Linked DNA regions of Homo sapiens: region 2 is linked to region 1. A link means that fine-mapping ties the variant in region 1 to the expression of a gene that starts in the linked region. Tissue or cell type: monocytes. Region 1 holds a variant in brackets; the other region holds the start of a gene. All regions are shown on one strand. Distances are between the middles of the regions. Region 1 overlaps ANGPT4 (angiopoietin 4). Region 2 holds the start of ANGPT4 (angiopoietin 4).

What was found. PIP is the estimated chance that this variant, and not a neighbour inherited with it, causes the effect. A credible set is the group of variants that fine-mapping cannot tell apart.
Region 2: ANGPT4 starts here. The variant in region 1 is the best candidate, but not a certain one, in a credible set for the expression of ANGPT4 in monocytes (TOPMed, PIP 0.50).

What each region holds. Positions count from the first base shown.
Region 1 is chr20:891,180-894,082 of GRCh38, reverse strand. All of the region lies in intron 1 of ANGPT4 (angiopoietin 4), which reads left to right. Among named protein-coding and RNA genes, the nearest start is that of ANGPT4, 24 kb to the left of the region's middle. The variant T/G (reference allele first, on the strand shown) is at 1,449.
Region 2 is chr20:914,778-917,680 of GRCh38, reverse strand. It overlaps ANGPT4 (angiopoietin 4), which reads left to right and starts at 1,347. Exons shown (of 9, transcript NM_015985.4): 1 at 1,347-1,775. The coding sequence starts at 1,467. LOC105372492 (a long non-coding RNA gene) reads right to left here. Exons shown (of 3, transcript XR_937185.3): 2 at 260-355.

The DNA.
Region 1 (2,903 bases):
GAGCCAGCAACAGCAACCCCCTTTGGGTCCCCTCCCTTTGTATGGGAGCTCTGTTTTCACTCTATTTCATGCTATTAAATCTTGCAACTGCAAAAAAAAAAAAGAATCTCCTGGGAGCTGACAGAGGGGTTAAAGACAGGAAGGCACAAAAGGCAGACCCATGGAGAGGAGGGCAGCCTGGCCCAGAATAAGGCGAGTAAACAGATTTGAAATCCAAATTGGGATCACAGTGGGCAGTACTTACTAGTGGGTTGAGTGTGGCCGCTAAGAAAAAGAGAAGTTAAGATTGAGGTCTGGGTTTGGGGCTTCAGAACTGGGTGGAGCCATTTCCTGAGATGGGAAAGATTTCGAAGCATGGGGTGGGAGTTACAGGGACAGGGGCGATGGGAGCTGAGGAATGAAGAGTTTCACACTGGGCTTGAGATGCTCATTGGAAACCATGCAGAGATGGCGAGTTGGGGACATGCAGGGGAGAAGTCTGGGTGGGAGATGGTGATGGCTCCATTAGCACAGAGGGATGTGGAAGTCCAAAGACCGATCTCAGCCCCTGGGGCAGGGCCCTGATGCATTTGGATCCTCAGACCTCTTGGCATCTGGTCCTGGTGAAGCTTAATAATCCTTTCTCAGAAATGCATAAAATCAAAGCATAAGAACACTCAGTAATATGGAAATCATAAGCAAAATATGAAAAATAAAATCTGTGATCAGGCATAGCATTATCCAGTGGTGGGTGTGATGTCTATAATTCCAAAGTCCCGGTGAGTAAAAACAATGTTTTAAGATACCGTAAGAGTGTGTTGTGATATGAAAATATTTGGGATTTCTATTGGTAATGACTCTCAGGACCTGCTAGTATGGCTGTGGTTTGTGACCTAGGCTCATAATTGAAGGAAATGCCAAATTTTAATTGCAGATTAGTGGACAAAAAATGTGATCTTTTTTTCTCACTCAAGTTCATGGAGCCTGTGGCTTCTTCATTAAGGACCCCTGACCTAGAGAGTGAATGTACATAGAGACAAGGACCCAGGACTGGGCCATGGGGGCCCTGCCGTGTAGGAGTCTGTAAAGGAGGAGTCAGAGAGTGGGTGGTTAGGGGCTAGGAGGAAACCAGGATTGGGGGGAAGTCGTCCAGCAACAGGGAGTGGCCATCCAGGTGATTGCTCCTGAGATGTCAAGCAAGATGGAGTGTCCCTTGAGGGCAGTGTCAAGGAGGGCTATCTATGACAAGGTGAATTAAAGAGCGAAGGGGGGAACTGCGCGTGGTGGTGCTCGCCTGTCGTCCCAGCTATTTGGGAGGTGGGAGGATTGTTTGAAGCCAGTAGTTTCAGGCTGCAGTGAGCCGTGATCACATCACTGCACTCCAGCCTGGGCAACAGTGAGACGCCAAAAGGCAAAGGGACCTCCCAGGATGGAGAGACATGACTGGAGGTATACAGGAGGATGAGCAC[T/G]ATGGGCTATATTTATTCTCTATACTTTTTTTTTTTTTTTGAGACACGGTCTCACTCTGTTACCCAGGCTGGAGTGCAGTGGTGCATCTCAGCTCACCGCAACCTCCACCTCCCAGGCTCCAGCGATCCTCCTGCCTCAGTCTCCTGGGTAGCTAAGACCACAGGCTTATGCCACCATGGCTGGCTAATTTTTGTATTTTTAGTAGAGATGGAGTTTCACCATGTTGCCCAGGCTGGTCTCAAACTCCTGGGCTCAAATGATCCACTCTCCTTAGCCTTCCAAAGTACTGGGATTATAGGTGTGAGCCACCGCACCTGGCCTCTATGCTTTTTTGTATGTGTGAAACGTAACATCATTTTATTATTAACGTTATGTTGTTGTTGTTGTTTTTTAAGTGAGGGTGGGTATGAAGGTGAGAAAATGGAGACAACTTGTAGAAGTTTTGTGTTGATGAGATCAGAGAAACTGGAGAAGCAGCCAGAGAGGCTGTGGAGTTAGTTTTTAGATGGAAGCTGTTAGCGCATGTTTGTGTGCTGCAGGGAGGGGGTGGGCTGATGATGCAGGGAAAGAAGGAGGGGGGTCTCTCTGGTCTTCAGTCCCTGCTGCTACTCTGCATCAAGGGCTCTCACACTTGAGCAGGCATCTGACTCAGCCAGGGGTGTTGTTAACCACAGTTGGCTGGGCACCATTAAGAGTTTCTGGTTCAGGAGGTCTGCGGTGGGACCTGGAAATTCACATTTTTAATGAGCTCAGCTGATGCTGACGGAAGAACCACACTTGGAGAAACACAGCTCTAACCAGTACTACTACCGCCCACAAGCACCCGCTCCAGGATGTGATAATGGAACTTGCTCCCTTTGAAACACTCCAGGGTGAGGAAGGGATGGGAGTGAACAGTCAAGATGGAAGAAGGGAGAAGAGATGAAGGAGGAAGTGGCTGGAGCCTGGCCCGAGCCAAGGTCACCACCTCTCCTGGGGAGCACCCATCTTCCCAAGGACCCTGAGAGCTGTCCAGCTGGCTTCTGAAAGACTGAGTGAGAGGGCAAGGGAAGGAGCCAGGGACAGGGGTGGGGGGCATGGTGAGAGGCCAGCATGTGTGCCGAATGGAGAGGCAATGGTGGAGGGGAGCTGGCTCTCTGCCTGCAGGCACCGAGCCCTGAGAACACACTGTTCACCTTTACAACAGCATACTGGTGTCATGCCAGACCAGCTCTCCTGCCCTTGGGAAAGAGAGCAGCCCTGTCAAAGAAATGAACATTTGCATGTGGGATCCCAGAACATCAGAGCTGGGAGAACCCTTGGAGACTGGCCAGTCCAGCCCCATTTGGCAGATAGAGGGGATCTGAAGATAGAAAACACAGCTTGGCCAATGGACCTGCAAACTCTTTGTACAAGGGAGAGATGCATTCCCACTCCCTGCTGGCTGACTCACCCTGAGGAAGCTGGTGAAGGGG
Region 2 (2,903 bases), 24 kb before region 1:
ACCAACTCCTGGGCACCTTCTGCCTGGAGACCATGTCCCCCAGGGACAAATCCCTGCCCTAGAGGAGTTTATGCTCCAGTGGGTCGTGGGAGGGGAGGTGCAATGACAACTATAACATTGACAACGGAAAATATTTATTTAGTGCTCGCTCTGTGCCAACCTTGCTCTAACTCACCTAATTTTCATGCCATGTGAAGTAGGTGGTATTATTTTCCTCATTCAGGAGGAAATGAAGGCACAGAGAGGTTAAGTGACTTACTCAAAGTCATACAGCTGGTAGATGGTAGAGCCAGGATTTGAACCCAGAAGCTGAAAACTTCTCCATCCCCATGCTGAGGACTCACACGCATTCCTCCTGCAAGAGATAAGGTTTACCCAGTTTACAGATCAGGGTGTGGAGGCCCAGAGAGGCACAGCTGCCCACCCTAGGTCTCGTGGCCAGCTGTCGGGGAGCGAGATCTAGGGTTAGCCTCCTGGCACTCCAACCTCCTCTCCCCACTGCCTCCTCTCCACATCCCCACTCCAGCAGCCCCAGGACAATCTGCCCCAGGACATGACAACTTCTCATTACTGTTACAAGCAACCAAGCCAGGGCCATCCTGGGGCATACCACTTTCCCCTGGCCCTGAGGGAGAAGAGAGGACAGGAAGCAACTCCCAGCTGGGTTGCTCACTTGCCCCACCTTGGAAGGATTTTCTGTGTCTCCAGAGGCAAAGTGGATTCGCTGGGCCCTCCCCAGCCTCACCCCTCTGCCTCCTCCCCTCCCTCTGCTCTCTCCGGGGGTCACTTGTACTCCAAGCGCTAACATGGAACCAGAGGGAGGAAGGTGCAGCGGGGAGAGAAGGGGATGGCAGCGGGACTGAAACTTGAGATCTTAGACTTGGGGGGCAGGGGATGGGGGTGGAGGGAAAGAGGGAGACCAAGACAGAGACAGGAAGGGAGAGTTAAGTTGCATTTGGTTTTCCAAAGCGGGCAGCATTGGAGCTTGGCGTTTGTGTGTACATGAATGTGTGTGCGTGTCAGCGTGCGTGTGAGTGTGTGCTCGTGAGTGTGTGCATGAGTGTGTGCGCGTGTCTGTGTGCTGTTTTCTTCCCTCCCCTCCAGCAGGGAAGCCAGGCCTCACTGGATAATCAGAGGGCTCAGAGGTGAGGCAGACAGAGCAAGGTTGGTGCACGCTTAGGGTAAGGGCGACGTGCCACCAAGACTGAGGAAGGAGGAAGGGAAGGAGTGAAGAATAGAGGTGAGAGGGTGTCGGGTGGGGCCGGAGGGAGGCGGTGAGAGGAAGCAAGCAGAGCAGCCGTGGTATTCAGAGCAAGTATAAATAGCTGCCTGGACAGAGCTCGGCCAGACAGAGGTTTGTAGCTGCAGCTGCAGGCAAGCCTGGCCACTGTTGGCTGCAGCAGGACATCCCAGGCACAGCCCCTAGGGCTCTGAGCAGACATCCCTCGCCATTGACACATCTTCAGATGCTCTCCCAGCTAGCCATGCTGCAGGGCAGCCTCCTCCTTGTGGTTGCCACCATGTCTGTGGCTCAACAGACAAGGCAGGAGGCGGATAGGGGCTGCGAGACACTTGTAGTCCAGCACGGCCACTGTAGCTACACCTTCTTGCTGCCCAAGTCTGAGCCCTGCCCTCCGGGGCCTGAGGTCTCCAGGGACTCCAACACCCTCCAGAGAGAATCACTGGCCAACCCACTGCACCTGGGGAAGTTGCCCACCCAGCAGGTGAAACAGCTGGAGCAGGCACTGCAGAACAACACGCAGTGGCTGAAGAAGGTACGGGGCATGGGAGGTTTGCAGGGGGCAGAGGGCGGCTTTGGGGTCTGTCACAATCAGCAGGTGGAGTGTCCATCCAAGAGGCCTTCCCTGAGCACAGAGGGCTGTCTCTGAGCTGCACAAAGAGGGGCAGGGGTGGGTCTGAGGCCACACAGCAAGATTGGGCAATGTCAGCTGGCAACCTGGCTCTTTAACTGCCGTCCCTTCATTCATCCAACAGAAATCCATTCAGCCCTGACCAAGGGCTGAACGGACCAAGCCTTCCTGGGTGCTGGGGATACGACAGTATAGTATGTCTCCCTCTGGACTAGTAGGGGAAAGAGGCAGTAAGAGATAATCTACTATGTCAGATGGTGAAGCAAAATGAAGAAGAAAGAGGGCAAGTGGCGGCCCTGGGTGGCTGCTTGAGGTCAGATCATTAGAGAGTACTTCTCAGAGGAGGTGACATTTGAACCCAGAGAACAAGGGAAATGATAGAGTGGGCCAGGCAGGTATTTGAGGGAACGTTCTGCAAAGGGAGCTGCATGTATTTTGACCGTGAGGAGGGAATGCATCCGCAGCGGTGTGTGCCTGGAGAACCATGGGGCGAAGGCCTGTGTAGCTGGAGCAGAGGAGAGGGAGCAAGGGTGCGGGGAGGTCTGAGAGGTGACAGCAGGGCAGGCCATGCAGCTGGGGGGGGGGCCACTGGAAGGACTTCAGCTTTTGTTCTGAGTGTCATGGGAGCCACTGCAAGGTTGTGAGCAGAGACAGACACCCGTGATTCGATTTCAACAGCATAGACTGTAGGAGGCAGGGTGGAAGGAAGAAGCCCAAAGAGGTGGCCGCTGCAGCCATCAGGTGCAAGGTACCGGAGGCCTGGAGCAGAACGGGGCTAGGAGGGGGTGTGGCCAGTAAGATTCTGGTGGGTTCTGGAGGTAGAGCCCATCAGCTCTGCTGGTGAATTGGATGCGGAGTGGGAGGAAGCAAGGAGCTGAGGATGCCACTGTGGTTTTGGCCCAAGACCAGGGCTGCTGTAGAATGCCCTGTCATGCTTTCGTCTTTCAGCAGTGTGAGCACCTATTGTGTACCCTCGGAGAAGCACTGACTACAGAGGTGTGCAAAGCAGGCTTGGCCCTGGCGGGGCATGAG